Homo sapiens: one gene and its partners. The protein of the gene in region 4 interacts with the protein of the main gene of each other region in a pairwise test. Each region holds a gene or a part of one and is shown on either strand. Other genes may lie near its edges.

The links.
Region 1: the proteins of MFF (region 4) and SHISAL1 interact in binary tests that used the Homo sapiens proteins (3 or more experiments, as listed by UniProt).
Region 2: the proteins of MFF (region 4) and UNC50 interact in binary tests that used the Homo sapiens proteins (3 or more experiments, as listed by UniProt).
Region 3: the proteins of MFF (region 4) and SLC7A8 interact in binary tests that used the Homo sapiens proteins (3 or more experiments, as listed by UniProt).

The regions. Positions count from the first base shown.
Region 1 is NC_000022.11:44,295,323-44,303,076, reverse strand, and holds part of SHISAL1 (protein shisa-like-1 precursor), read left to right. Parts: intron 1-2,099; 5' UTR 2,100-2,131; coding exon 2,132-2,198; intron 2,199-6,191; coding exon 6,192-6,405; intron 6,406-7,754.
Region 2 is NC_000002.12:98,603,973-98,612,112, reverse strand, and holds the start of UNC50 (protein unc-50 homolog), read right to left. Parts: upstream 3,525-8,140; 5' UTR 3,387-3,524; intron 2,471-3,386; exon of another isoform or gene 2,405-2,470; coding exon of another isoform or gene 2,354-2,404; coding exon 2,074-2,353; intron 1,339-2,073; coding exon 1,218-1,338; intron 1-1,217. Other genes in the region: COA5 (cytochrome c oxidase assembly factor 5), read left to right, coding at 3,708-3,806, 7,922-8,005. UniProt on the Homo sapiens protein: Involved in the cell surface expression of neuronal nicotinic receptors. Binds RNA.
Region 3 is NC_000014.9:23,180,182-23,188,262, forward strand, and holds the start of SLC7A8 (large neutral amino acids transporter small subunit 2), read right to left. Parts: upstream 3,480-8,081; 5' UTR 2,734-3,479; coding exon 2,583-2,733; intron 1-2,582. UniProt on the Homo sapiens protein: Associates with SLC3A2 to form a functional heterodimeric complex that translocates small and large neutral amino acids with broad specificity and a stoichiometry of 1:1.
Region 4 is NC_000002.12:227,341,808-227,349,561, forward strand, and holds part of MFF (mitochondrial fission factor), read left to right. Parts: intron 1-937; coding exon of another isoform or gene 938-1,012; intron 1,013-5,418; coding exon 5,419-5,577; intron 5,578-7,754. UniProt on the Homo sapiens protein: Plays a role in mitochondrial and peroxisomal fission. Promotes the recruitment and association of the fission mediator dynamin-related protein 1 (DNM1L) to the mitochondrial surface.

The DNA of each region.
Region 1 (7,754 bases), on a different chromosome or scaffold from region 4:
TAGATGGCCTGTCCTAGCCTCCGTTTCCAACTCCTATGGGAGACAGGTTGATCATAGTCTAAGTAATCTAGTCCCCTCAGGGCCCAAAGCCCTGTCTCTAGTGGCCCTGCTGATACCCCAACCCCAGGGTCTTTGCCCCTGCTGCCTCCTCACTGCACCCACCCCAGGGCCTTTGCCCCTGCTGCCTCCTCACCGCACCCACCCCAGGGCCTTTGCCCCTGCTGCCTCCTCACCGCACCCACCCCAGGGCCTTTGCCCCTGCTGCCTCCTCACCGCACCCACCCCAGGGCCTTTGCCCCTGCTGCCTCCTCACCGCACCCACCCCAGGGCCTTTGCCCCTGCTGCCTCCTCACCGCACCCACCCCAGGGCCTTTGCCCCTGCTGCCTCCTCACCGCACCCACCCCAGGGCCTTTGCCCCTGCTGCCTCCTCACCGCACCCACCCCAGGGCCTTTGCCCCTGCTATCCCTCCGTGTGCAGCACTCTTCTTCCAGACAGCCACGTGGCCTCTCCCGCCTCACTCAAAGGTCTGCTCAAATGTCACCTTCTCAGAGAGGCCCTCCTTACCACCCTTCTAAAGCAGCTCCCCCATCACCATTCTCGGCACCACTCCCCAGACACGCCTTGTTTTATTTTCCCTCGTAACATTAAAAATTTTTTTTTATTGTGGCAAAATATACATTACAGAGAACTTACTACTTTAACTCCTCCCCGCTCCTTTTTTTTTTTTTTTTTTTTGAGACGGAGTCTCGCTCTGTCGCCCAGGCTGGAGTGCAATGGCGTGATCTCAGCTCACTGCAGCCTCCACCTCCCAGGTTCAAGCTGTTCTCCCGCCTTGGCCTCCCAAGTAGCTGGGACTACAGACATGCACCACCATGCCCGGCTAATTTTGTATTTTTCGTAGAGACAGCGTTTGTCCAGGTTGGTCAGGCTGGTCTCGAACTCCTGACCTCAGGTGATCCGCCAGCCTCGGCCTCCCAAAGTGCTGGGATTACAACGCCTGGGTGGTGTGGGCCACTGTACTTTAACCCTTTTTAAGTGGACAGTCAGTGGCATTGAGTAAATTCAGTGTTGTGCGACCCTCCCCACCATGCACCTCCAGAACTTTTTCATCTTCCCAAACTGCAACTCTGCACCCATGAAACATTCACTCCCCATCCCCCTCCCCCAAGCCCCTGGCATCTTCCATTCTGCTTTTGACCCGATGACAAATCTTCTGTGAATGGGACTCCTCTAGGGACCCCATGTAGGTGGAATCTTGCAGTCTGTGTTCTTTTGTGCCTTGCCTAGTTCATAGGCATAATTCCCTCTGGGATCCCCCTGCTGTAGCATGTATCATAGTTTCCCTCCTGTTTTGGGAGAGTAATGTGCATTGTGTGACGGGCCACCTTTTGTTGATCCATCCATCCCTCGATGGGCACATGGGTTGCCTCTACCTTTTGACTAAGGTGAAGGATGCTGCTGGGAACATGGGTGTGTGTACGTATCTGTTCGAGTCCCTGTTTTCTGCGCCTTGGGATATGTACTCAGAAGCTCGGAGCATTTTAAACATTCATTTGTTTGCGTGTTGTCAGCCTTCCTGAGTAGAACACAGGGGCTCCAGGGAGGAACTGCTTCTATTTCATGCACTGCTGTGTGCCTTGTGCCTCGGAAGCTGCCTGGCTCCGTGCATACTTGTGGAGGGGTTCATGGAAGTCACCATGAAACCCTCCACCTTAGCGACACAGCAGGGGACCTGGGTCCTGTAAGCTCCTCGAGGTGGCCGGGCCAGCCCGGGCATCCTCACTCCTGCAGCTCTGGTGCCTGGCCACCAGCCTCTGCCGGCCGGTCATTTCCACCACCTGAGCCATCCGTCCTCCTTTGATTAAGTCTCATTTTGCCATGAAAAGAAAAGGAGGTGACAGTTGGCTTGTGGGGGAAGGTCATTCATTCCAGAAAGGAAATTGGATGGCGGCATCTCCATCGTCCGCACCCGGCCCCTGCTCCCGACAAACTCGCTCTCCTGCCCGCTGCCCGCCTGCCCGTCCCCCGCTGTGGGCAGGAAAGCCAGTGTCAGGCGAGACAGCCCACACCCAGCCTCTCGTGGCTCTCATTGAACAGGCAGCTCTGGACGGATCAATGCAAGCCAGACGATGACCAGTTGTGGCCAGCAGTCCTTGAACGTGCTCGCCGTCCTCTTCTCATTGCTGTTTTCTGCAGGTAAAACCTCCGTGGATGCTGGGGGCGGGGGCGGCACGTGGGGGTGTGGGCTCTTCCTGAGATTCGTGCTGGCCCATCTGGGGTTCTGGGGGCACACAGAGGCTTGCCTTTTGTCCTCCACCTTACTGGCACCCCTCTGGTGAGCAGCTGATGTTGGTTGCTGTGTGGTTGGTCTCTGTCTGTCTCTGTCTCTCTGTCTCTATCTCTACTGTGCACCGCAGCCCTGGGACTTCCCATGGGAGCTCAGCTGGCTGCCAGGACCCTCGGGAGAAGCCCTGACTCACATTCTCTCCTTTGCCCCTGCGAGACAAGGTTAGGCAGTGTCCTAGTCATCCCATTTTATAGATGAGGAAACTGAGGCTTGGAGAGGGACCTGACTTGCCTAGGACAAGGCAGTTAGCGGATTCTAGCCCGACCAGCCTCCTGGGCTGTCCCTGGGATCCCAGTTGAGGTCGCAGGTGGGCTCCTGCTCTCCCAGTTACAAGGATGAGCACAAACTAAGTCCTCTGCTCCTCCCAGCTAGAGCTGAGAGCCCAAGTTCAAGGGCAGCCCTGCTCCCCAGCCAGGGCCTGCTCCCAGCAAGGAGCCCCCTCTGGCTCTCTGGCTTCCTCTCCCTCTGTCTTTCTGTGTCTCTGGGTCTCTGTCTCTCTGTCTTTCTGTCTGTCTCTGTCTCTCTCTGTGTGTCTGTGTCTGTCTCTGTATCTCTATCTCTCTCTGTCTCTGTCTCTCTCTGTTTCTGTCTCTCTGTCTCTCTGTCTCTGTCTCTCTGTCTGTCTCTCTGTGTCTGTCTCTGTCTGTCTTTCTGTGTCTCTGTGTCTGTCTCTGTCTCTCTGTCTCTTTCTGTGTCTCTGTGTCTGTCTCTGTCTCTCTGTTTCTGTCCTCTGCCTCTTTGTCTTTGTCTCTGTCTATGTCTCTGTGTCTGTCTCTGTCTGTCTCTCTGTGTCTCTGTGTCTGTCTCTGTTTCTGTCTCTGTCTCTGTCTCTCTGTCTCTGTCTTTCTGTGTCTCTGTGTCTGTCTCTGTCTCTCTGTCTCTGTCTATCTCTCTGTGTCTCTGTCTCTGTCTATGTCTGCCTCTGTCTTTTTCTATCTCTGTCTTTGTGTTTCTGTCTCTGTCTCTGTCTTTCTCTGACTCTGTCTTTCTGTCTCTGTCTCCATCTCTCTGTCTCTGTCTCTGTGTCTCTCTGTACCTCCTCATGCCCGCATGCTCTAACAGGGTCACTGACACTGGCCTGGTGGTTTTCAGCCCCTGCCCCTTTGCTGGGGGCAGCTCAGAGGGAGGCTATGAGGATGTCTGGGGGTGCTTGGCAGGGCTCCCCGGACAGCAAAGCCAAAGCCACGCCCAGGCCAGGGGTCTGGGGGCTACCCAGCTGCTCTCCCCACCCCAGATGCTTCCCATGCTTTGGCTCACCTGGTCCTCACCATCCCTGGAGGACGGACCCACTCAGCCCATTTTACAAATGAGGAAGGTGAGACACTCAGAAGGAAAGCGGCCTGCCCGAGGTCACCCCTTCAGGGGAGGGGCCAGCCAGTGAATCAGGGCCATCCAGATGCAGGAGTTACGTGGAGCTGTGCACACAGGGGTGCGTTCATGGTTGAGGCTTCGGGGCCCGAAATGCGGCTCTCTCCTTTGCGTCCCTGCTCTGCTGGGGCCTCCTAACAGAGTGTCCCTCGGCCTGGAGTCACGCCATGCCCCAGAGCAGAAGCCCACGGATGCTGCCCTTTACTGCCCTTTACAGCCTCTAGTGCTCGTAGGGCCCCTAGTGCACACACAGCCTCTTTCTCTAGGTGGGGGCTGCGCCTTGCTGTTTACAAAACGCTCCTGGGAGCCCCCAGCCCGCCTTGGAGACCATGAGTCTTTCATCAGTGAGGGGAGGAGGCCAGAGAGGTCACGATGGCCCAGGCAGCCTCATGCCAGGACTCCCACCCGGTTGTCCCGGCTCCCAGCCCAGGGCTCTGTTGGCTCCGGGAAGGCAGCCGGGGAGGCTTCATCGTTACCAAATGGCCAAAGCCCATGGCGCTGACCGCCCAGTGGTGGCCGGGTGAGCTGGGTGCTGGTAATGGGCAGGACCCTTCCACATCCCCCAACCTCGCCGGGCCTGCCCTCCCCGGCCCCCCATCTCTGCATATCAGGCTCCTCCCAGTCCCTTGAGGCCCAGCTCAAAGGCTGCCTCCCCATGCTGCCCTACCGCTCTGTCCCTTCCCTCCCTGAGTCCTGTGGTAGCCTCACGGGCTGGTCCCAGGGCCTAAGCTAGACTTTCTGCCCAGCAGCGTGAGTGTGCCTGGTTCCTCCCCAGCTGCCCACGCACTGAGCGTGAGCAGGGCCTCCTCACTGACCTGGGCAGTGACCCAGACAGTGACCGGAACTGGCTAGCTGCCTCTGCCCCTTGCCGCTAGGCCAGTGGGCCCCAAACCCAAGCCCATCAGCATCCCCTGGAGGGCTTGCCAGGACAGACGGCGGGGCCTACCCCGGAGCTTCTGATTCAGAAGCCCAGTGGCCTGAGAATCTGCATTTCTGACAAGCCCTCCGGGGATGCCCTCGAGGCCGATCAGGGGCCACACTTTGGGAACTGCTGCTCTGAGCCACAGTTTTCTCCCCTGTACGATGGGAATAAATGAGATGGGGTGAGACAGCTGTCTACTTGGGGCTCTCTAATAACCTCTACATCCCCAGAGGGGGTATTCTTCTTTCTTAAGGTTGAGGAAGAGAAGGGGGCCTGGAGAGCTCCCCTGGTTCCCCAAAAGCTGAGACCTTTCTCTCGCAGTGGTCATGCCCATCCCCACAGAAGAGGGTGCTGTCTGTGGGGGAAGGGGTGTGGAATTTCATGCCCCCCGCCGGAGGCAGCCTCAGCACCCCAGCACATGAAGGCCGCCTGCCCATCTTCCAGCCCAGCCCAGCCCAGCTGGGACTCCCCTGCAGCAGCCCCGGGTGGGTAGGTGGGGAGCTGTGTGGGCTGCAGTCTAATAACCTCTCAGCAGACACAGAGCTTTCAACGAGCTGGAGGAACTCCTGCAAAGCCACTGCCTTTGTGGTTAAAGGAATGTATTCAGCCAGCGAAGCCCCTTTTCAGTGATACAAATTAGATACAGCGATCTCTTTTATGAAGATACTAATTAAGCCTGAGAGAGCGGGCTTTAGGTTTTTTCCATTGTTATATTTGTTCAGACTTTCAGTCCTGTTTATCACCATCGGCACGACTCGTAAATACCATCCTGGGTTTGCAGTAGCATTGGTGGCTGAATAGGGGCCTCCGCCCCTGAGCAGAGTGGTGGGAGGGTTCCAGGCCAAGGCAGAGCTACCACCGTGAGGTGGGGGTGACTGAGGCAGGCCCTTGGGGACCTTGGGGCCTAGGGTACTAGTTTAGTAGAAACCAAGGAACGAAGGGTCTGCTGTTTTTGACCCAAGAGGTACCCAAGAGGTCCTTGCACCTATGCCAGCCACCACCCGGGCCAGCCTGGGCTGAGCAGCAGGTCCACCACTGCCCACCTGGGAACAAAGAGCTAGTGATACAAGACTGGAGAGGGCCCCAAACTTTGAATCCAGGCCTGAGTTCCATTCCTGTCCCTCCAACACTTATCAGCTCGGGCAAGTCACCTTAGGTCTCTGAGCCTCAGTTTCTCCATCTGTAAAGTGGGATCTCAGACTTGCTTGGCTGTGTGAGTTAAATGAGATGGGTCTGTGAAGCATACAGTAGGTGCTCAGTTAAGGCTGATTTCCTAATTGAGTGACTGCTGCATGTCAAGCATGTTCACCGAAGCAGGAGAGCCAGCCCTGCCCTCCAGGACCAGCCAGTCTGGGTGACACAGAGAATGTAACCAGGGCTGGGAGGCTCGGGGTAATGGGAACCCAGAGGTGAGGCTCACAGTGGACCACAAAGGCATCCAGGGGAGGGAAGAAGCAGGCAGGACCTGAGAAGAGGCCGGCCAGTCCCCCTGCCTCTTGGCACCCGTGGACTGGTGAGGGACCCCTCTGAGCCTGGTGACTCTGTCTTCCAGTCTTGTCTGCACATTTCCGGGTCTGTGAACCATACACAGACCACAAAGGCCGCTACCACTTTGGCTTCCACTGCCCCCGGCTCTCGGACAACAAGACCTTCATCCTCTGTTGTCACCATAACAACACGGTCTTCAAATACTGCTGCAACGAGACGGAGTTCCAGGCGGTGATGCAGGCGAACCTCACGGCCAGCTCCGAGGGTTACATGCACAAGTGAGTGCCACTCTGGGGGTGCAACCCCACTGCCTCGGGCCCCAGGCAAGGGGCCTGCCTCCCAAAATCGCGTCCCCTAGGGAGGCGGTTGGGTAACCGCTATAAGGTTGGGTGGGCCTGGAAGGAGTCTGGGAGAGTCTTTGGATGACCAGGGTTTTCGGCCCATTGTGCCTTCTAAGTTTCAGCTTTCTCATCTGAGAAATGGACACAGAGGCCAGGCGCGGTAGCTCACACCTGTAATCCTAGCACTTTGGGAGAATGAGGTGGGTGGATCACCTGAGGTCAGGAGTTCGAGACCAGCCTAGCCAACATGGTGAAACCCCATCTCTACTAAAAATACAAAAATTAGCAGGATGTGGTGGCAGGTGCCTGTAATCCCAGCTACTCAGGAGGCTGAGGCAGGAGAATCACTTGAACCCAGGAGGCAGAGGGTTGCAGTGAGCAGAGATGGCGCCATTGCACTCCAGCCTGGGTGACAAGAGTGAAACTCCGTCTCAAAAAAGAAAAGAAAAGAGGGAGGGAGGGAGGGAGGGACACAGAATACTCACTTTGCAGGGTTACCATAGAAGCTAAGTGAGGTTAAGGATGTGGAAAGCTTTCAGGCGTAGAAGGCGCCTGGGCCTGTAATCCACCGGGTTCCTTCATTCATTCTTCATTCATTTAACAAATACTGATTGACACCATTGACCCAGAGATTAATCCCATGCAGTTCTTTTCCTTAAGGTGATTAAAATACATTGGGATCAGGGCCTGATGGAGGGGACCACAGGTGTGGAGAAAGAGAGAGTTTGCTGTTAGAAAAGCAATGGGAACACGCTAAGTAGAGTCATGGAGTTTCAAAACAGCATGCGTTTCTCTATTATGAGTGAAGCTGGCCGTCTTTTCACATGCCTGAGAGACATTTGTATTTCTTTTACCGTGAGCTAGCTGTTTATGTCTTCTGTCATTTTTCTATTGAAGTTTTTGTTTTTTTCTTATTTACTTATGGGTGCTTTTTATATATGAAGGAAATATGATGAGTTGCAAACATCTTCCCATCTTCTCCTTGTTGAATGTTTCCATACAAATGTTTCCTCTGTGACTTTGACTTTATACTGCTTTTTCCTCATGCTTAATTTTTGTTATGTAATCACATTTTATCATTTTTTTTTTCTTTTATGGTTTCTGGCTTTTGCATCATACTAAGAAAGGTGTTTCCTGCTCTGAGGTCATTAAAAATACCATGTTTTCTCCTAATTATTTTACGTTTTAATATTTTGTCTTTAATTAGTTGAGCTCTCTGGAATTTACTTTGATGAAAGTTTTAAAGTTGGCATTAAACTTTATTATTCTTTTTTCAAAATGGGTAG
Region 2 (8,140 bases), about 130 Mb from region 4:
CCAGCATGCCAACCACACAGGAGGACTTTACCAAACACCAGATTTATCCTCAGTACACTGCTGTTGCTAAATCAACCAAAGTCAGACTGAGAACCCTTCTGATAAAGCCCGTGTGTGTGTGTGGCGGTGGGGGGGCGGGGGGGGCGGAGGGTGTGTGTGTATGAGAGAAAGAGAGAGAATTTTATTCTCAGTAGGAAGGCATGAGAAGTTTAAAAAAAAAATCCTTCTTTTTCAAGTATACTTCATTTAATGCAAAGATTCAAAGTAAGACTCCACAAAATAACCCTTTAGATCTAAATGGATTTAAACACAATGAATATCAAGAAGTGGTCTCTATTGACAAATGCAGAAAACCATGCTATCATCCAGACAACTTAAGCAGAACTGGCTAAATCTGTAATATTTTTGCAAAACCAGGCATTTTGTTAGTATGCAGAAAATAAATCTCGGGACCCCAAAATCACTAAGCCAAAGGGAAAAGTCAAGCTGGTAACTGTGTCAGGCAAACTTGCCTCCTATTTTATTCCTAAGATAGCTTATCTTTACAGGTGTGGGACAGAAAGTCCTCCTTCTACTCACCTGAGACAAGTGTTTATCTGATTGCTTCCTCTGCCCCATTGTTTATGTAAAAATGCAGACTCACTGAGCCAGATTAAGGCATAAATGACTATTCCTGTACCTGCCTCTCACAAGTAAATTGTGTATTCAGTGAAAGGCAGATCAAAGACTCAAAAGAATGCAACCATTTGTCTCTTATCTAACTGTAACCTGCCTTTCCCCACTTTCTGGATTAAAACAATGTACATTTTACACATATTGACTGATGTCTCAAGTCTCCCTAAAATGTATAAGAGCAAGCTGTGCCCCGACCACCTTGGGCACATGTCATCAGGACCTCCTAAGGCTGTGTCACAGGCATGTCCTTAACTTTGGCAAACTAAACTTTCTAAATTGAGACCGATCTCAGATATTTTGGGTTCAAAACATAATTATTTCAATTATTTGCTACATTTGACAATATTATAAACCAGCCTTTATAGTATTTTCTGATATAGGTGGCAACACAGGAGGGAAAATTGTAATAATCTTGGCAGTCAAAATTGATCATTTAGTAACTCTACCTGGGTTTCAATTTCCATCTGCTGCTATTGTACCTCTGAAGCAAACAAATGGAGATGCTACAGCAGTATCTGAAAAACCAAAGTTATGGTACTTACCACATTAAAGTTGCTATCAGAAGACCAACGCCTACACAATCTATGAGTACAACCCAAAGGAGAAGCTTTATTGTCTCAAAGAATCCCATGTCCAGCACAAAGCCAAATCCTATAGTGGACACTGAAAGAAAGATTCACAAGATTCATTTAGGGACTCTGCTAGGTTCTGGAAATACAGGACACATCCCTTGCCCTCCAGATGCCCAGGCTAGTGGGAGAGACAGGTCTTTAAACAAAACTCCCAAGATGTGTGAACACTACCTTGGGACACAGCGTGGCCACTGAGAGAGTTGAAGTTTCCTGAGGTGGGCCCTTGCCAGGCTGATTCACCACGGTGGCCTCAGTATTTAGAACGCCAGTGTAGAGAAGGCACTAACATAGTTTAAGTCCAGTTAAGGTGCAAAACACCCTATAAACTTCAATATCTTACCCACTTCAACACCCTACAGGTAAATGAGACCCTTGCATTATGGAATTGGAGAACTTCAGTTTCTCAGGTTCCCATCAATACCTTTACAATTCTCACTGTGGATTTGCCTGTGAAATGCAATTTCCAGTTTCATATTCCTATTCACAGTCAGCTGACATTTGGGTACCGATTCAAGTACTTAAAAAGATATGGAGTGAATCTTGTCCCCTGCTTTTCAATGTCCTAGGGTAACAGTTTACTCTGGCATCTGCTTGGGACCTGTAGAACCAAGACTACAACTTTCTTTCCTGTGAGATTTTTTGAGGCTTCAGTAAAAAGGAGAAATAGTTTCCAATATTTCCAGATTCTGACCCACAACACATTTATAACAAAAAATCTAATCAGAAACACTCAGCGTTCAATTCTATCTCAGATAAACACACTTACCACAGAGCCAGATACTTAACAGGACCAAGAAAGCAGGGTCATCTCTGGCCCACTGGTCCTTCGTCTGTTTTCGATAATGAAAATTTCTGTAAACTCTCTGTGGGGATGTGAACAGGTAGAGCATCTGCCAGGCAGCAAATTCAAAGTCCATTTGCCGAAAGCGGAAAAGCCTTCTCAGATATTTGTAGCGTTTCGCTCCGGCTGTGTGTCTTGCCGCATCCCTGGAATTCAAGACTCCGTTCCCCTGCACTAAGGAATTCACTGAAGTACTCGGTAACATCTTCCTAGATGGAAGAAAAACATTTCTTTTACACGTATTCTGAAGAAACATTTGGCTACCGACACTCCTCTTCTGAGTTATTTGGCAGGGAGGTCACTTTCCATGTTCTTCCCAACCCTAGAGAAAGGCCAGGAGTCAAAAGCAAATGCAGTTAGTTCTGAGGCGGGTCTTGGGGCTTGGGAACCGCAGACTGCAACCTCAGGCAAGGGCAACAGCCCACCCTTCTGAATCACCTAATAACACTTATCCAGGGGCAGCTACCATTACAGAGACAGGGATGATGTGACTGCCCCATGACTCCGAGGATAGTGATAGAGCCAAGATTGGAAATCTGACTCGAAATTCCGTGCTCTTAACCACCAAGCTTTTAAGAAAATGCCTAAGAAAGCAGTTTCAGCCGGTTAGAACAGTGTTACTGAAGAGGTCAAATAAATGGCCTATTCACACAGATCCATCAGCGCACTGCCAGCAAGCTTCTCGGTCACTAGAATGAGATTAAAAAACCAAGAAAAACTCCGATCCCTAGTGTTTTACATCCGGAATAGTTCAGCAGAGGGAGCGGTAGCGTCGGAGTCCAATCCAACCGGTCCGAGCTCCGGGGAACGCCGGCCACTGCCCGGCTGCCCGTCTCCCCTCCACTTCGCAGGCCCCCCAGACGCCGGCAGGGTCTGGCCGAGCCCAGCTGCTCCCTCCCTGCCCGGGGCCGCGGGTACGGCTGCCAGATTTAGCAAATAAAAACACAGAATACCCAGCTCCATTTGGATTTCAGACAGGCCACGAATAAGGTTTTAGTATGCCTACATCCCACGCAACATTTCGGACATGCTTATACTAAATGCTCTTTCTTTATCTACGATGCAAATGTAACTGGGCGTCCTTTCATTTTAGCCGCAACTCTATCGCCGGCCGAGGGGCCGGACGCCGACATGGTCACTGCCAGGCCGCAGCGACGTCAGGCCGCAAGCTGTCGGGATTAAATGGCCCCCGGCGCGAGCCCGGGCCGCGGGAGGGCAGAGTGGTCCTCAGGCCTCACCTGGAGTCCTGCTACAGCCTCGACCCACGTCCGAACCAGCCCACCACCTCCTCCCAGCAGCCGACCCCAGCCGCCACCGGGCGGGCTTCCCTTCCCTCAACGGAGCCGGCCCTTGGGGCGCGCCGCGTCACGGGAACCGACTTCCGCCGCGGACGCGCCACCTCTCGGCCCCCGTAGTCCTCGGCCCTACCGCCGCGGCCCGCCGGAAGTTGTTGCCGCTGGCTTCCGGTCCCCTGAGACTGGGGCCTCGCTCGCTCCCGACCCGGTTGCAAGTGTTGCGGTGGGAGAAAGTCGCGTCCGCATCGGAGGGGAAGCGCCGTCATGCCTAAGTATTATGAGGACAAGCCGCAGGGCGGCGCGTGCGCGGGCCTGAAGGAGGACCTGGGCGCGTGTCTGCTGCAGTCGGACTGTGTGGTCCAGGTAGCGCGGCCGGGCGCTCCCGGTGGTGACGACCCCTGTCCCAGGCAGGCCTGGCTCGGCGGAGGGCAGCGGGTCGCCCGCGGCGGCGGTTGGAGTTAACCATCCCGGGCGTAGGTCACAGCTCGGGCTCACTGAACGTGCGCAGATCCACTGAGCTGTCGGAGCCCCAGTTCCCTGTGGGGTTAAATCGGAGATAACGATAAACGCACCCTGTCGGGTTTTTGTAAAGGTTAACCCATTTCAGTTCACGAAGCCTTTATTGAATGCTAGCACTCTACTAGGCTTTGGAGACATAAAGGAGAATAAGCCAGGTTTCTTGCCTGCCTAGAAATGATAATCTGTAGAATTAATGATTCCAGAGAGTTGCGTAAACCTGGTACACTGCCCTGGCCAGTAGTGTCTCCTGCCTGTTCAGTTGTGACAATGTGTGCTCAGTTTGACTTGTGTTGATGTGAATTTGTTTCTGAGTTACAGTTCTCTGCATTCTTGGATGTTAAGTTGTAAAAATAAGGCAACTCCATATTTTCACGATTTCGTATCTTGCTTCCCCTACACTCTTCCTTCACTCCCCGGCTACAGACACAGGTCTCCTCAGCACCCTCTTGGAATGCACTGAAACATGTAGTGAGGTTCACAGTGGACCTGAGTTCTGGATTAGAGCTCAAGTAAAGCACAAGTGCCTTTTCCAATTGCAGAGGCCCGACGAGAGGGCATTCAATTGTGTGCAATTGTCTTTGCATTGGGGGATGTAGTTTCAGAAAGTTGCTGTTATTTCAGAGAAAAGATTACCCCCAAATGGACATCCACTGTAAGACTGTACCAGTGTTTCTACCGAGTCACAATTTGTTTGGTTCACTGATTTTAGCAGTCAGCCATTCTCGCCTCCCAATGTCTAGTAAAACTTGAGTTATTATAAATTTAAGAGATTATCTCGCCCAACTTCCTTATATAAATGAGGAAACTGAAGTACCGTTGTTTTCAGGCTCCCCTGTCCAGGGCTGTGTCCCTTCTGCCCCTTACTCACTGGTGCTGCCGTTCAGCCAGCTCCTGGTAAATGCCTCTTAAGTGGCAGGCATGGTACCTGACACTGGTGATAACGAAGATGAATCAGTAACAGTCACTACCCATGTAAGCTTGGTGTCATGGGAGAAATAGACATCTAAGGGTCTAAATTCCTGCCATAAGACTGTAAGCATTTATTAAACATGTGTTTAATGACTAGATCTTGAGGAGAAAAATGCGTTAGCCCAAGGGAGAGCGTCTGATTTTGCTTCAGAATTTGGAATCTTCTGAGATGACATTTGAGCTGAGTCTTAAAAGTTGAGTAGTAGTTTATCAAGTAAAGGAGTGGGAACTGTTGTGGTTGTGGGGAAAATCTGAAAGAACAGCAAGTGCAGAGGCAGGGAGATGTGGGAGGGCGCAGAGGAGCTAGTGTCCTGCCATAGGGGAATGCGACAGAAGGCCTGAGGGGAAGGTTGCAGCCAGGTGTGAAGGCCTGTATGTGTGTCAGAGTGAGGAGACTGGATTTTATCCAGACGTTCAGCATCGGAAGGCCATGTTGATGAGTAGTCAAGGGAAGAAAGTACACTGAGTAGGACTGAGGAAAGAAACTCCAAGTGGAGGACAATAGCAGCAGCACAGAGAATTCCAAGCTGGCTTTCTGCAGCGGTTGATACAGCAAACATGTACGGAGCGCCAGGCTCCAGTTCAGGGAACAAATACTGATGAATGGAACATGGTCTCTCCAGTATAGAAAGCGGAGCTGTTTGGCTAGAATGCTGTAGGCAGAGATTATGGTTGGGACAGCTGGTACAGACTTTGCTTTTCCCGCCATTGAATATGTGGCCTTACCAGTGCTCAGTTTGGTCAGCCAGAAAACGTGATGCTTATAAGCAGTTCTTTAGATGGAAGTTCGTATACAGTTTGTGTTAAATTCATTCTGAATGCTGACTTCAGCTGGATTGTAAAAGGGCAATAGTGAGGAGGTTTGCAGGTCCAGAACAATCTCCTACAATCTGTTGGCAGCTACTGCCCACTGCTCCTCACTGGGGACTCTGAAAGACCAAGGAAAGCTCTGCTGAGGTCTGTGCTTGCTCTGTGTGGCAACCTTAATTATGATGGAAATTTTTGATTTCTTAAGTTCTTGAATAAAAAGGTTAATCTGATCCTATGGCAGGTTGGTGCTGTAGTCTCTTCTTGCCAGTCTTTAACCCACCTGAAACCTGCAGCACCTCGCTCTAGGGAGGAATTCAACATAAACATGTATTTAGTTCTAGGTGCTGCTTTGGGAGACTGTCAAGGAGTTAGAGGGCCTCAGAGAAACTCAGGGTAATGGTAAGGATGTAAATTCCAGTGGGGCTGGAGGAAAGCAGGGAAAAAGCAGATTCAAAAGGCATCTCTTGAAGAGACTTCTTAGGATTTAATGACTCCTGGATGATCAGGACAATGAAACTCTGCCAGAGGAACTTCACTCATCATAGGGTATCTTCGTCTCCACTAACAGCTTCCAGATCCACTGACTCTTCATCAGAATCACCTAGAAGTGGTGTGGCTTTTTAAAAGTACAGATTCCACTGCTGCCCTCACCCTACCCCCAATAAGTTAAAAGTTTCTTTCCTAGGTTGGTTTTGGGCACAGCCATGTTTGAGAGCACTGACTGATCTTGACCTCAGAAGGCAAAAAAGCTTGGGAGTGTATTAGTTAGAATATAGATTCAAGTGCATGTTACAGAGACCCAGAATAATAGTGGCTTAAACGAGATAGAGAACTTTCTCTTTTGTCCTTGTGCCTATAATCAGGGCCTAGTCATTTCCCTCAGTCTTCCATGAACGCAGACACTGTTGATCTTGTGACTCTGTGCTGTGAAAATAGGAAAATATAGCAAGTAGGGTGTTACTCTCATATTCATGGTCCAAGACTGGTTTGCTTCCACATCATCAGGCCCGGCAACCTTATGGAGTGAAGTGAGGAAAGGGGCAAGCCTCTTTAAGGACCAACCCAGAAGTTCTACACCTGTTTCCCACACATTCCAGTGGCTAGAACTTAGTCACAGGACCACAGCTAGATGCAAGGGCGTCTAGGAGATCTCACCCAGCCATATGCTGGATAAAAAGGAAGAGCAGACAGCTAGCAGTCTGTTATTTGGGGTGGAGTGGATAACGAATGACTGTCTCTTAGCTTTAGTGTATCTAGATGGATCTTTACCCCAGGCAGTTGACAATATAGGTTGAAAGCTTTTGAAAAAGGTAGCATCTTAGATACAGTTTGAAGAGGCATCAGCTTATAAACTATAGTTATAACCTTTTATATGGTTAGTCTTCTTTTGTCTGCCTCCACGTCGTTCATGTGGGCAACACATCCCACCAGCAGAATTGCAGAGTTTGGAGAGGAAGGAAACCTGCTACTCTTATCCACTTTTGAGAGTCACTGAGGTAGATGACATTTGATATCTAGGACCCAGGCAGACATACAGACTGGAAGGTGGCCAAGACTCCTGGGGAACAGGAATACCACAGACATAGTACCCTGTAGCTTTTCATAGGAAAAACTGGCAGAGCGTGCCTGGCACTTGCAACATAAAGGTTCTGGGGAGTGGCTGCAGTGATGCGGCTGTAGAGTCAAAATCTGCTTGAGGGAAAATCCCTGATTATGCAGAGCAGATGAGCTTTGGGTTATATTTTTTCTGGTGCATGAATGGGCCACATGTTTCTATTTAAGTAGTATTCCAGCCTGCCTTGTTAATATCTTTGTGAAGTGTTTCGTGCCAACACTAAAAATATTCTGATTTTAGGGTACCCAGTTCACACATTTCACCCATAAGGAAATGAAGATAACCCTTTCTAGATTTTTATATAAACAGTTTAAGGAAAAGTATCCAATAGAAACCAGTGTTTTCAAGAATTCAACAGTGTCCTTAAAGTTCCCAAGTTACTTTACAATTTTTTTTTCATTCTTTAGGCACCAATAGCCCAAATGAATTAAGAACTATTTCCTACATAACTTTCTATTTTCCTCCTTTAACACTTTTAAAAAGGACTATTTTCAGAAGGACAATTATTTTGTACTTTGTGAGAAAATTTCCAAGGTGTTTATATTGTTTTATGTGTCTGTCATAGGAAGGAAAATCACCTCGGCAGTGTTTGAAGGAAGGATACTGCAACTCTTTGAAGTACGCATTTTTTGAGTGTAAAAGATCAGTGGTAAGTGGTTAAAGATTTTTAAAAGCCTATGCTAAAAATTAGCTATAGGGAGGTTAAATATATGAATGACTTAATAGTTATAGGTAAGTTGCAGTGATATGGTTTGGAAAAAATTACATAGATAATATTTCTTCC
Region 3 (8,081 bases), on a different chromosome or scaffold from region 4:
AGGTGTGAGCCACCGCACCCGGCCCTTTTTTTGCCTTTTAGTTCTCTTTTTTTCTGCAGTGTTGACATTGGACACCAGATCCCTGAAATCTACACAGAAAATGCCATTTCTATTTTTGCATTTGGTCTTGAAAACACTTGAATCACGATCATCCACTGAGAAACTTCTCCAGAAGAGGAAAGGGCAGTTCCTCAGCACATCTGTGACTCAACAGCAACTCGGGAGGGGAAGCAGAATGGATTTTGTCCCCTGTTATCATCTTAAAGGGGAAATTTGTTTCTAGCTTAAGTTGGGGTAGAATAGTGCCTATTAACTCTACAAGGATTCTCATGTTTTGCAAAAATATCCCAATTTCTCTGAAATCACATATTTGGAATCTCTTTTCATCACAGAACACCAGAATTGCCATTCTAGTTACTGTAATGCCACCATGGGGAGCTTTGAGATTATTCTCCCATTGAAGTACCATCCATAAGGTTGTGGACAAATCAGTAGTAACATATACCCACAGAAATTGTACTTATTATACCTGAACACTCCCATTTCTTCATAATCTTAGAAAAAGATGTTAAAGGAAGAGACAAAAACATCAGTATATAGGAAAATACCCTCTACCCTTGAATACCTGAACCTGGAGATCGAGACCATCCTGGTTAACACGGTGAAACCCCGTCTCTACTAAAAATACAAAAAAAATTAGCAGGGCGTGGTGGTGGGCGCCTGTAGTCCCAGCTACTCGGGAGGCTGAGGCAGGAGAATGGCGTGAACCCGGGAGGCGGAGCTTGCAGTGAGCCGAGATCGCGCCACTGCACTCCAGCCTGGGCCACAGAGCGAGACTCCGTCTGAACAAAAAAAAAGAATACCTGAACCTATATTGGGAAGGGCGAGCCAGGCTGAGGCAGGAAGGATGTTTAATTGTGCTTGTGTGCCTGTGGGCGTGCGCATCTGTGTATAAGTCAGAACCTTCCTAGAGGGGGAAAATGCTTAATTCTGTCAGTCAAATTGGTGAACGGGCTATTTATAGACCTTAAACTGGCATGTGCTATACATACTGAATACTTGGCTGTTCTCATTTCTTTTGAACAATTGAGATAAAGTAAAGGAGAGGCAAAAAAAATGTCATGAGAAAAAGTAAAGAGAGATTCAGATCATGACTACAATTTTTCTTATAACATTATCTTTCTTATAACTGTAGATGGCCTGGAAAACTTCCCAGAGTCAGGGAATCACATAAAATAGGATTCCAGGGTGTAGGAGGAGTTGGTGGGGGTGGGGGGGGGATGGGATTTCATTTTAGAGACTGAAGAGAGCTTGGTCACTGAAGTTCTGGGTGTAGAGGTGAAGAGGATTATCTGAATACTGCACTGATTTTATTTGATTTCAAGAGTGCTCTCCAGTGTCACTATTGCTCAGATGCCAAAATATCTCTGAGCTATTGCATAGAACATGGCGTCAGCCAGAGAAACTGGTTCAGGGGCACCAGGACACAACGAGCTCTCATAAAGGAACTCTGGAGAGATGACAAAGAAGCATATCTATGCCTGACCGTCCTGCACTCCTTTTTCTGGGAAGAAAGTAAAGCCCCCTACCAAAGATAGCAGAACAATCTCTCACTCTGAAGTGAGGGCAGGAATAGTGAGCTATTGCCTGCCATCCATCTCCAAGGCTTCTCTGGAAAGAGGATGTGCTGTCTAGAGACGAAGCTGTATTTGGGACTCCTGCCCTGCAAAGTACATTCAGGGGGTTTGAGTGGCCTGCACTGGCACTCTTGGGGCCACCCAGGTTCCCCACCTTCAGCACCTCCCAGCTAGGACACATATTTTACCCATCAGTTCCTCCTCAACTCCATATTCTACACATTCTAGTTACTCCTGATTCCCTCTGAGAGCTTCACCGGGTCCTCCGTGGCTGTTAAGAAACAGGTGGACCCCACCAGGCAACTGGAGAAACTGCAAACTCTCCACTTACCGAGAGGCACAATCTGTCCCCTCTTTTCTTCCATAACTTCCCCATCTGTGAAATGGGAATAACAGCCCTGTCACAGCTACTTCACACAGTAAAAGTGCTGCATAAGGTGGAAAACGCTAAAATAAAAAGGCAGGGCATTGCTCTTGCTATTTTTAATACCTATCCCATAGTTTCATTTAACATAAAACTGCAAAATAGCTACCAAATATACCTTAAAAGCCCATCCCCAGCCTGGGAATAATAGCTGCATACAAACTTGTTCAGGTCCCTCAGTCCCTCCTTAAACCTATTGAACTAGAACCTCCAAGTGTCGAGACCAGGACCTGTATTTTTAAGGAGTTCCCAGGCAATGCTAATCATCAGCCGGGTTTCTGACCACGATTTGCTCCATTCTATGAACACTGGGCAGAATCTTTGCCTGGTTTGGAGGAAGAGATGTATGATGTATTTCCTATGCCTCTCAAACTTGACCAGTGGAGGTGAGTTACAGCTCAGGTGACTGACAATCCTTTTCTAAGGAATAGGAAGAACAATAATGCTTTCGAAGGGTTAAGATCTCACAGGAGGACCACCAGAGGGGAGAGGAGGGGTCCGCGGGAAGGAATGGAACTCACCTACGATGATACCACAGGCACTGACCAATCCGATCTCTTTCTTCAGGGCTACTCCGCCCCCTCCGGAACCAGCCTCGGGGCTGGCGTCCGACTCGCCCCCACCTGGGTGTTTCTTTTCGGTGTTGTTTCGGTGCCTGGCTCCTTCTTCCATCCTTCTCAGTAGGATTGCAACCTCAAAAGCTGCCTCCCTTTCTAAATGCGTATTCGTGTAAATATATTGGGAGAGAGCTTTGAATTAGAACGTCCTTTTCCGAAATAGGAACCACTGCTACTCTCTAAAAAAGGCAAGCAGATAAAAGAGAACACGAAAAATATTCCTACTCCGCATTCACACTTTCTGGTCACTCGCGTTTACAAACAAGAAAAGTGTTGCTAAAAAAAAAAAAAAAAAAAAAGGCCAGGGGAGACATACATTTAAATATAAAAATAGAACTGTGCCAGCGACTCCGGCTGGAATTCTGCTGAAAGGGATGTGTCTTCAGAAACCAGGATGGTTCTGCTCTGTGCACCAGGCAGTGGCTTATTCAGAAAGTGAGCCTGGATTTCCCTTCACCTCTCCCCCTAATAAAACAGGAGACTGCCTTTACCTCCCCTTAGTTTTTTCTTTTATGATGAAGACAAAAGTAGTTTTCATTAACGGTAGGAAAAAAGAGCAATCCTCAGGTACTTTCTTCTCTTCTAGAAAAACAAACTGTGAACCTGACGGTGTTGCTCTAGATCTGGTTTCCACCTGCTTTGGGTTTCTTTTCCCTTCCCCGTCTTCTGCTTCCGCCTTTCCCAGGTGTCCTCTTCTTTCTCGCTGGTCTTCGTGCCCTTGTTTTCCTCTTTTCGATCCCCGTTCTACTGCACAGCCGGCCCCATCCCTCTGGTTTCGGGAGAGTGGCTTCTCCACACACTAACGTGCTTCTCTTTAGCGAGGGGTTTTATTCGCCCGCCGAGGCTCCGCCCCTGCCTCCTCTGCTCCCCTCCATCCTCAGTCCCGTCTCCTCCCTCCTCTGCAATTTAAGTATTAGCACAAAGCCCCCAAACAGCACTGAGAAAATGGACTAAGTTATTTCTTTTTGCAATCGTCTCTCGCTTTCTCCATCTTTCTCCTTGCAACCAAGTGGAAGTAAACTCCTTCCACGTCAACTGTTCCGGGAGAGCTCATTAGCTAGTATAATGTTACAGGTCATACAGCATCTGTGAGCTTTATAAATCAGGGAACAGTTGTGCCGATACTTTTAATGCCATCAGAAATAAACTAGCCAATGTATTAAAAAATATTTAGGACTGGATCCTGTATTTGAGAATACAGGAGAGAACGTTGAAAGGACATCATCTTCGAGTTTCCTAAAAATAGGGGGAATCGACGGGTGGGGGAGGGAAATGGAAGGAATTAACAATGGGAAAAAGGTTCTTTTAGCGTAATTGTGAGCTACGAAGAGTACAGAGGAAACAAAATCGCCAGGCGCGGTGGCTCACGCCTGTAATCCCAGCGCTTTGGGAGGCTGACAGGGGAGGATCACGTGAGCCCAGGAGTCTGAGACCAGCCTGTGCAACAGAGCGAGACCCCGTCTACTAAAAATTTTAAAATTAGCCGGGTGCAGTGGTGCAGGCCTGTAGTCTTAGCTACTCAGGAGGCTGAGGCTGGAGGATTGCTTGAGCTCAGGAGGTCAAGGCTGCAGTGAGCTATGATGACGCCACTGCACTCCAGCCTGGGAGGTAGAGCAAGACCCTGTCTCAAAAACAAAACAAAACAAAAAGCCAGAAAAACCACATGCACATACAAAAAGATAAAAAACAAAATCACCAGGTAGCCTTGTTGTTCACAGCTCTTATTTAGGACTGGCTGAAACATGAAAAAAAATGACTCAAACCCTGATCCTGCAACTTCTAATATTTTTGCATTTATAAACTATTTGAAAAGCACACATGGGGAATTATCAGTATATCGCTGATCATGAAACATACTTGTTGATGTTAGAATAACTAGCTTATTACCATATCGAAATGATGCCTCCACTTTCTTGAAGAATTTCACTCAGAAACTGCTGCCTTAAGGTGAGAGCAACAATGTCTATTTATAATTGTAAATTATTTCGAAAAAACAGCATGAAGCAATATAGTGGACAACACTATAAGTCTAAAATAAAGTTATTTTTAGCCTTATTAAATATATTATGCAAAATTATTTAATTTTAAAGTGGGCCTAAAAAATTAAGTTCCCCCAAACTGACCCCTAACTACAAAAATTTGGCCTCACTTTCTGGAAAATGTTCCAAAAGATTTTGGGTTTTAAGGAAAATAAATACTTAATTCCTTAAAATGAGGTTTGTTGAGCTATCATAGCAAAAGCTTTTTCAAATGGGGTAAAGTCCAATCAGCAGTCATCTGCCCCCTTGATCACTCAGCAAGTATTAAGAGGTTTCAAAGGTTGGGAGGAACTTCCTCTCCTCCTTTTGCTAGTTCAAGACACAGCAAATTGAAAGACTCAGCAAAAAAAAAACAACAAACAACAACAAAAAAAACCAGACAAGGCAGGGAATATATAGCACGAAACTCCATGGGAGGGAATGAGTCATGGGAAATGAAAAAATGTCGAATTTGCCTCTAGCCTTTCCTGACAACCTTAGAAAGCACTGAGGAAAAATTTGATAGATTCATTTGTATACATTCAGATTTGAAGACTTCTGCTCCGATTTCAACATCACCATATAAAACAAATAATGTTTCTGCTTCTTAAACGTGAGTTCTTTCAGTAATATTTGGTAGTTCTAATTTATATGATGCAGACTTAATGTGGGATAAAACATGAATGTGATGAATTTGAGGTCTCTTGCTAAAACCAGTGCAAACTGATAACGATATGGTAAGCTTTAGCCCTCTCAAATTATGAACTAAGAAGCTAAGGGGGTTATGGGATCAAATACGTTCTTGGAATACAGCGGTACTAGGTGCACACGTTGGAAAGGAAGAGTTGCTGAAGATTAGTATTTCTATTTCTTTAGCACTTGGAATTTATAAGTGGCTTATTACCATTGATTACTGGTGCGATGTAATATCTAGGAAAGGGGCTGGGCACGGTGGCTCATGCCTGTAATTCCAGCACTTTGGGAGGCCGAAGCAGGTGGAGTGCTTGAACTCAGGAGTTCAAGACCAGACTGGGCAATGTGGTGAAACCCCATCTCTACAAAAAATACAAAAATTAGCTGGGTGTGGTGGCTCACGCCTGTAATCCCAGCTACTCAGGAGGCTGAGGTGGGAGGATCGTGTGAGCCATGGAGGTTGAGGCTGCAATGAGCCAAGATCGCACCACTGCACTCCAGCCTGGGTGGCAAAGTGAGACCCTGTCTTTAAAAAAACCAAACCAAAACAAACAAACAAACAAAGCTAGGAAAGGAATCTCCCCACTTTCAAAGGGAGCATTATTTATATTAAGTGCCTCTCTGTAGGTTGGAATCTTTTTGTGACATAAACTCTTAAGTGTGTCAAAATTCCAGGTGACTAACATTGAACACAAGAGAGAAAGAAAAGCCTTGGTGTAATATGTTGACAAAAATCTGTAAAAAATTACAAACTAATGTTTATTAAATTTTGAGCATTTTTTTTTTTTTTGAGAAGGAGTCTCGCTCTGCTGCTCTGGCCGGACTGCAGTGGTGCGATCTCGGCTCTCGGCTCACTGCAACCTCTGGCTCCTAGGTTCAAGTGATTCTCCTGCCTCAGCCTCCTAAGTAGCTGGGATTACAGGCACCTGCCACCATGCCTGGCTAATTTTTGTGTTTTTAGTAGAGACGGGGTTTCACCCTGTTGGTTAGGCTCGTCTTGAACTCCTAACCTTGTGATCCACCCGCCTCGGCCTCCCAAAGTGCTGGGATTACTCTATTCTGCATTTGCCTTTATATTTTTATTCTATTCTCTACGTTTAAATAGTGCTTTATAGCCCACAAATGGTTTTCTGAACAATATCTCAATTTTTTTCCTCCTCATGTAGTATCTTGGGCAGACGAGGCAGTTATCTTAAAGATTTTAAAAATTAGAAACCTGAGGCTTAAAGAAATATTTTACCTGAGGTAAAAAACAAGACAGTCTATTTGAGGGCAAATGGGAGATTGATAGTTTACACTGAGCACTTTTTCAGGATGCTATAGCTACTGGTCAAAGCCTCAATTTCTTTCACCTGAGGGAAACTCTGTGTTTTTGCTTTGGTGTCTTAACTGTGCCTTTTAGAGACTCACCTTGATCCTAACACTTATCTGCTCAGTGAGACCCACAGGACTTCACCTGGGCCCCCCCAACATTTGTCACCCCCTTCGCACAGTCCTCAGTGTGGCCATATCCCAAGTACGTAGTACAATTCTGTTTCCAATATCGGAGCCACTGTTTCAGCTGTTTTGCGTGCTTCAGATCAGAAGAAATTGATCCCTTTAACTAGGGAAAATTATGGATGAAAGGCCGTTTTCTTACAAATATGGATTTAGAAAGAGAAAGGCTGTGCGTAGCTGACACCTACTGGACAGAAAAGGTTATGGCTTGGGACATGCTGCTTGTGATAGTTAAAACACAAACACACACAACCCCCACGCAGTCATGTTCTAATATTCCCCTACTCCCCCCTTTTTTAGAGACAAGGTCTCACTCTGTCACCCAGGCTGGAGTGTAGTGGCACAATCACAGCTCACAGCAGCCTCAAACTCCTGGGCTCAAGTGATCCTCCCGCCTCAGCCTCCCGAGTAGCTGGGACTACAGATGTGCGCCACCACACCCGGGTTAATATTCCCTTTCAGAGACAAGTTAGACGTGTCTGCTAATGCAAAGGAATAGAGCACAAAGCTCATGCACTCCATTCCTGATTTTTTTTTCTAGATCCAATAGACAGCACTTTATTCTTGCTTTTTGTAACAGAGCTGGGAAGTCTGAGGTTACCAACAAAGGACCCAAATCTCTCCCTGGAGTCAACTCACAGTCCATGCGCTCACTCCATCCTTCTTCTCGTAACTATGTGCCCCATATCTATGTGCTTTAGTTTAAAGCAGAAGGAAACCCTGCTTTAAATTAAAGCCAACTTTCTTCCCAGAGTCCCAGGGATCACTGCCTATGGTCGATTAGATGGGGCCTTCCTGAGCCAGTAGTTTTAGATGCCTTTACTTCATTAGAAAATGAAAAGCAGATGAAAATTAATGAGAAAAGAAGAAAAAATTAAAAAAAGAAAAGGCCAAAATAGGTCAGAAAGAAAGGAAGATGAAATGAGGAGACTCGGTCAGTGATTAAGCCCTTTTTAGTGTATGCTCTGTTTGCCTTTTGGGCATATTCATAAGTTCAAAGGAAGTTGTGTCTTCTAGGGTTTATGCAGTCCTGAGAATTTGGATGCAGCTGACCCTGCTTTGTTATGATGGTTAATTAATTCAGCTCTTCTGGAGATAATGATGAATCCTTGCTCTGACACCAGAGACAAAAATTCCAACAGATTACTCCTCTGTCTGCTGCACTTGGTGGGATTCCATGGAGCCAGCCCAGCAC
Region 4 (7,754 bases):
ATGTGGCTTACTATTTAGGTTCTTAGCTACTTTGACATTTTATATTAATAAAAACAAGATTATTGTAATATAGCACCACTCTTATTTTTTCTCCCGAAGTATATATTATTTATAGCTGCATTCAGCTGAAGAGAAAGGAAACCCCTTTATTATGTACGAAAACCAGTCCAGTGAAGTATAATTTAGAGTAGATGATATAGATGTTTTTGTATTTACTCAATAACATAAGTTCCTCATAACAGAAAAGATTTACAGTGTTAACTAATACTTGATTTTCTTTTTTTTTCTTTAAGTTGCTTTAATGACATTTTCTAAATTTTTAGTAAAACTGAAAATCTCATTTTTGATAGTAAAAGTAATGAATCTTTATACATTTTCACAGTGAAACACTTAACATTGCTTAACCATATTTTTCATTATGGTTGTAAAGTATATTACCATGTTATGTATGTATTTTGTTAATAATGTAACTTTGCCCTTTCTTTTCCTACTGTTGTTAATTTTATAATTTACAATTTATCTTTAAGAATCTACATCTTACTAACTTTAGAATTTTGTATAATGAACATATTATTCAGTGTTGTTAACGTAGTGAGGAAAAAACAATTGATATAATACCTCTATTAAAATAATTATTAAACTCTTACTATCTTTACCTACTTTAGTGTTTTCTTTGTAACATGAAATTGTTGTGCGTCATAGTGCATGAAACTTTGCCTGTCTCCACTTTATTTTATTCCATGGCTTTAAGAATAAAAGTGCGAACGGGTATGAGAGCAGGAGCACTAGCCTTTGTTTTCTTAATTACTTCGAAGAGGCAATAAGATTGTGGTCAGCTATTAGCGCAAAAGTGAATTCTAAACAGTAAAATCAGATCTAGCTTTTTCTTTGTGTTATAAAAGCTGAATATGTAAAAGAAGCATAATTATTATTTAAGGTGGCACAGATCAGATTCTGCCCCAAGAAATAAAATTTCAAGGTTCCAGGCACCGATTTCTGCACCGGAGTACACGTAAGATTTTATCTGCTCTGCTTTTGACAAGTAGTTGTTTTGATTTTGAAGGATTATGTTAATACTAATCTATTCACCAGGTAATTGACGTATGCTATCCTAATTATCTTCCTGTTTGGCTTTTTAGTACCTCTGTTTCAGGATTTCTCAAACTGTCATTATATGCTTTATTAAGGAAAAAAAAAAACTAGACCATCTAAGGAAGTTGTATATGATTTTGCATGTGTTGGTGAAAGGAACCTGAAATATAATATGCACATAAGGACCAAGCATCCTTTTTTGTTTATTTTGCTTTGGTTGGTATAATAGTTCTCAACAGATTCAACGTCACCTGGTGCAGTGATCCCAATTTTTTTTTTTTTAATTTCAGCGCACTGTCTTTTCTTCTTCTATCTTGTTTCTGAAGGAGAATGGAGCATAAGTGTGGTTTGTCATTTATTTTATAATCCCATAGATGAAAACGATGCTTGGAAGCACTTTTTTGCTATTATTAAACCCACTCTTTCCATGTGACAAAATAAGGTATGAGAATGACTCACTCATGGAGCACAACGTTTTGGTATATAATACAGGTATTCAATAGCTAATACACTTCTTAAGCAACAGAAGAAACTGCACCGAAAGCCAACAGTTTTCCTCTTATTCTGGTTCTATTATTATGCTTCCAGGAACTATTCAGTTGCCATAGATAGTGGCAATATATTAAAATTTCCTCTGTATTTACAATTCCAAGAGAAATTAATATATTTGTGTTTTAGTGAAAATTTTTTCTCTTTATTGTTTTACCCTATTTTTTGGAAGAGTGATACCTCACCGAAGAGGTTAAATTCACAGGTTGGGAAACATTATTCCTATGAAAACTCAAAGAGGTACTTGATTTTGAACTTACTTTTAATAATGATATAGTTATGCCAAGTAAATTTTTATTTAAATTTTAATTCTGACAATTGGCTGGTGTTTTTTTGGTTGTTTTGTTTTTTTCTTTTGAGACGGAGTCTCACTGTGACTTCCAGGCTGGAGTGCAATGGCGTGATCTCAGTTCACTGCAACCTCCACCTCCCGGGTTCAAGCGATTCTCCTGCCCCAGTCTCCCAAGTAGTTGAGACTGCAGGCACATGCCACCATGCCCGGCTAACTTTTGTATTTTTAGTAGAGACAGGGTTTCATCATATTGGCCAGGCTGGTCTTGAACTCCTGACCTCAAGTGCTCTGCCCACCTTGGCCTCCCAAAGTGCTGGGATTATAGGCATGAGCCACTGTGCCCAGCCCTGGTGTTGTTTATGTAACTCTTATGTGATAAGATTTCATGTAAGCATGAGGTAGAGCTATTACTAATGAAGCATGGTAAACATCAGTGCTTTCTTCAAAATTTTCTAATCTTTTCTTTTAAAAAGGTAATGTTGAGACTTTGCTATTTTATAATATCACTGGAATCAGTTTATCAAATTGCATTTTTATTAAATTACTAATATATATATAATGCCATTTACTTAATCTTCTCAGTGCCTTTGCAGTATGTTTACTTTTTTATTTTCCACAATAGTTCACTTGTCAAAACTACAGAAACAGGAAGTCATTAAACCTTGGTTGGGTCCATGAGTGGACGGAGATGAAAGCGCTGTTTCCCTCCACAGTTGATAGCTGTGGAGTACATTTTAGCTCCTGTCAAACTGATTGCTAAAATGGAGCTTATTCTTTTTTGTTTTTACATTTATTTGTAAAAAATACCAACAAGACTGCTTAAAGTTTTAAAAAGGAAAGACAATTGCTAAATTATTTATTGCCTCTAATTACTAATGTAGTTTTGGCAGTCTTAATGGTGATTTATTTCATCTGTGGATGGAATTAAATGTTACCAAACAAGGACATTTAATCTATACAACACTGGCAAAAGTAGTCATCAATTAAAAAAAAAAAATACTCCCGATTTCGTTTTTTGTTTATGGAGGATTGCCATACACATGAATGAAAAGCTAATTTTTTTACTAATCTTTGAAATGTTAATTTCTTTTGAGAAACAACTAGAACCTCAAGTTATGTTTTTGATGCTGGTTTTTGAGGAAATAAATATCTTTACTAGTATTGATAAAAACTTAATTTCATCTTTTATCTTTCTACATAAGTATTTTTCATGTTAAATTATAACTGAGGATCATGTAAGGTTTTTTCTCATTGTATTCCAATTTCATGTGATCGTAAAATCTTAGAATTGAGAGAGATCTTATAGATTGTTTTAGAATCCAACCTTCTGCATTCCATCTTAGGAACTCTTTGCAGTTAGTCTGAAGTAAGTTTATGTTTGACTATTTTATAAGATGACCTCCTCATTTCCTATATATGGACAGAAAATACTTGTACTTTTACAGTTTAAATAAACAATTCATTATTGTTTGTTTCTGGCAAAAGGATTTCTCTTAGAGGAAGTAACCCTTCTTTTATTTTAATTTTTAATGGGCCAACATCCATTAAGTTTTTTTCATGGATTTGAGTTTAGTTCATTCATACTGTTGCCCCAAGATTATAATTCTAAATATTGATTATTGTAGCCTTTAATATGTTAGTATATAGCTGGTTTATTTATCAGTACAGAATGATACACAAAGTGTTCAATTTAAACCCCCAAATGCAAAGGCAAAGTACGGATTTGTCCTTTAAAACTTGCTTGAGTGAATTTAGGCAGTTAACGCTGGCTGCTCTATCAAGAAGAGTGTAAGATGGATTGTTTGTTTATGTTGATGTAGAACTGACCATTTTTTAATTCTCACAAGCAGTAAGAGCTTCAGGTTTTCCCAGTGCTGCCTAAAGAGAATTCTGAGTGTAAGACTAACATATAGTTTTGTTTCACAAATAGGATGTTTTTTTTATTTGTTTGTTTGTTTGTTTATTTGTTTTTACCCTTCTGGAATGCCTGGTATGGGTTTTGCCAATTACCATGGATCAGTAGATAATGTTGGCTTATATGTATTCCCAGAGATTGCCAGTCTCTGGACGGACATTTAAGGTCACTGGTCATGAGACTGCATCTGAAAATTTGAGTTTATCTTGACACCAAATTTGACCTAAATCCTATAGTGAATCAGGCTTGATAGATAGTTGCTTTATACGTTAAGATTTGGCTTAGATCTTTTAAGTAATCTTTGAAAAACATGGTTTTCATATTATGGTACTTCTGTCTTTGGATCACCAAGCCATTCAAAGTTATTCATAAAGCTGTGGAGGAGATTTTGTTTTTTAATTTTCTGGGACTCTGGGAATAATATCAGATGACTATAACTATCCTGTCAAAAATTATCCCACTTATTTTGTAGTTTCCAAACAAATACATGCTGTTAGAAAAGATTACACAGTCAAAATAAGAGATTTTCTTTTTTCAATTGTTTACCATCTGCTTTGTTTTTATTCTTTCAGATGTAATACACATTGGATGACATTTAGCCTGATGTTAGTTTTGCCTTGACGTTGAGAATGTTGAGCCCTCATTCCACTGTCGTAGTCTGTATGTCAGTTAAATACCTCACAATAGATAATCATACTGTAATGTTAAACAGCTCCCTGAAAATACTGACACAGATCTTAAGAGTTTAGGTTAGAACCATAAGAATTGGTTCATTCAGCTTTCAGAAAGCACTGGCAGGGGAGTCAAATGAAATTGTGAATCTCAGCCCACACATGAAAGAACGATTAAGATTATTGTCACTAAGAAGCCCAGAAATGGTTATCAGCCATTGATAATTTAAGAAGTGTCCTTGCCTTCTTTTGCTGTATTCACAGATTTGGGAATATTTTTATGCTTTAGTCATTTAACTAGAGAACATATGCTTACTATAATTAAACAATCAAAATGCTTTGTTACCATTTTCTAAGACTAATTCATCCTTAAATCAGTGTCATTTATTCGTCATAAACTTCAACTTCATTGGCTTTACGAAGTGTTTGAAATGGTGTTTTTATGGAATCACACTTTTGATTCATGTGTTTAAACTTTGACATCTGTATGTGAGAATTCCCTGTCCTACTCTTCTAATCATCCATAAGTCGACAGCAGTGTTGTTTCTTAGAAGTTGGTTTATTGAATTGGAATATAAACACGAAGTAAAGAATGCTGCTTCTCCATGGGAGGGGTTGAACACATTCATTGCTGTAGTTCTCTTCCCTCTCTACAGTTCTTTCATATTCAGTTTATTTATTTTGATGTTTAGGGTTACAAAGTTATAAGTGCTGCCTTGTAGCTAGTTTTTGGAAACAATTCAAAATATTTATTCTTTGACTGTTTTCTTGTGGGGAGAGTGAAGGGTGGGAAAGGGGCAAGAACACTAAGAAAATTAAGATAAAGACTGCTCAGCTGAAGTTTTATAAAAATCTGACTTGAGTGTTTTTCTCTTCATTTGCTGTGCTTGTGTAAACAGTGTGACACCATCGCCACAACAGGCTCGGGTCTGTCCTCCCCATATGTTACCTGAAGATGGAGCTAATCTTTCCTCTGCTCGTGGCATTTTGTCGCTTATCCAGTCTTCTACTCGTAGGGCATACCAGCAGATCTTGGATGTGCTGGATGAAAATCGCAGGTGATTGGCCATCCGTGACTCTTGACAGCTTTATTGCATATTTTTTGGCCTCTTGTTTAGTGGACTGTGGTGTCTTTCTTTTCTGTTTTTACCTTCTAGCCTCTTTCTAAGATGCAATGATTTGAAACAGCTTGCTTTACTTTCTTTTAATTTGAAATTATTGTCCAAAATTCACATTTCACAAGATTACATTAGCTTTCCTTCTGTCAGGGAGAGTATACATAGAAAGTGTAGTGATTTTTTTCAAAGGCTTTTCTAGCCTACTCTAAGTACTTGATTCCACTTAGGGATATGCCAAGGGGCCCCGTCCCATTGGATTGAGTGTTAGACTGAAGTTTACTAGTCCTCGTTAGTCTTTTGATTTAATCATTTATGCTGCTGATATGATTGGATTAATAAAGCAAATCTGAGGAGGTGATGTCAGCGCAGCTGCCAGGACACTTTTTTCCTTTCCTCTCAGCTACGGATTTCTAGGCTTGTTTTGAAAATTCCAGGTGCTATCATCTTTTTGATAATACTGATATTTTTCAGTGTTGATAATTTATCTCACTTTTGAACATCTCCAGGTAAAATCATCAGTAGTATACTTAGACTTATTCATACAAATAATTTTTTTGCAGTTATCTCAAGTACTTTTTGTCCTTGCTTTATTACTACATAATGTTTTAAAGGAAATTCAGGGAGCTTTTTTGGCATAGTGTGGGAAAGATAGAGTCAATTTCATTTCAACTCTGAACATTTATCTAGTGGCTTCTGGTAGTCAGGGTTTGAATTTTCATGATTATTTAATTGTTACTTTTTGCATTTTGAAGAATTTCACAATAAATTAAGCTATCCCTTCTAATAAATCCTGTTTCTTACCTTAGGAACGAATATGACTTCTGACTTGCACTGGACAAACTTTTTCTTGTTGAGTGCTTGTAGTCCTCACACAGGCCCTGGGTATGTCACCATACTTCGTAAGCACCTGTCCATGCTACTTATCATTGTTGAATCCAGGGCCTTTCTGAGCCTTCCCAGAGTTGACCTAGTGCTATGCATTTGGGCCCAAGGACTGAAAGCTGCACTAAGAAGAGCTTAAAAAGAAAGCTCATGGCATGAGGGTGTGGGGAGGGGAATTATATATACATGTATATGTATAGATCTGTTTTGTTTGTTTTTCCCCAAGGGTTTAGACTCCCTTTTATGCTTTTTGAAGCTTCAAAGCCATTCTTGGACTATTGGGAAGCTGTAAGAAGCAGCAAGGTTCAGAACAAAAAGCATGGATTCAGGGAGTCAGTTAGAATTAACCCGGATCCACCCCACTACATAGCTGCATGATGGCCTTGAACAAATTGCTTAGCTTCTTTTGGCCTCACTTTTCTCATCTGTTGAGAAATAGAGAGGAAGGGTAATAATATCTAGCTTTGTGAATTCTTGTGAGGATCTTCTCCCCTCCCCCACCTTTAATTATAATATAGGGATAATGGCCTCCAATTCTTTATTTAGTATGGTAGGAGATCTTTCAAACGATATTGCATATAAAGTAGCTGGCACTTAAGAGCTAATATTTACAAGGGCCTGTTTTCTCTTCCCTCCTTAAAACAGATTTATTGTCCATCAGCTAACTTGTTTAACTTTTTAATTACAATAAGTCCTTAGTGGAGACCAGATTATTAGGTGCGAGTATATCATATCAAATGCTATTACATTTAAAATATCTGAATGAGAGAGATATTTCCAAATCTTGTATAAAAAGTAATAATAGCTAGATGGCAGAGTCACAGTACATTAAAATTATATGTCCCAAAAAGTAAAAAAAGAAAAAAAATTATTTGTCCCAATTCCCCCTCACCAGCATATACACAGTTCATTGCAATAATGTGGAACTTATAAAAATATGGATTTTTTCCTCCATAATGGAAAAAAAATTGTGCCTCAGAGTCAAATGTATAAAATCAAAAATCGTATTAGTATAAACTTTGTATTTTTTTAATAATGAAAAATATTTTTGGACTTTCAGTGAAATTTTATTTCACTTTTTTACATTGTGATGAATTGATAACTCTAAAATCCCTTTTCTGGGAAGGAATTCTCTTTTCTCATTCATTTCAGTAAGTTTTTAAAAGTTCATGAAGGAGTTATATTAATAATGCTTTTCTCCTAGATCTGTAGCATTAGTTGTTACCTTGGAGCTT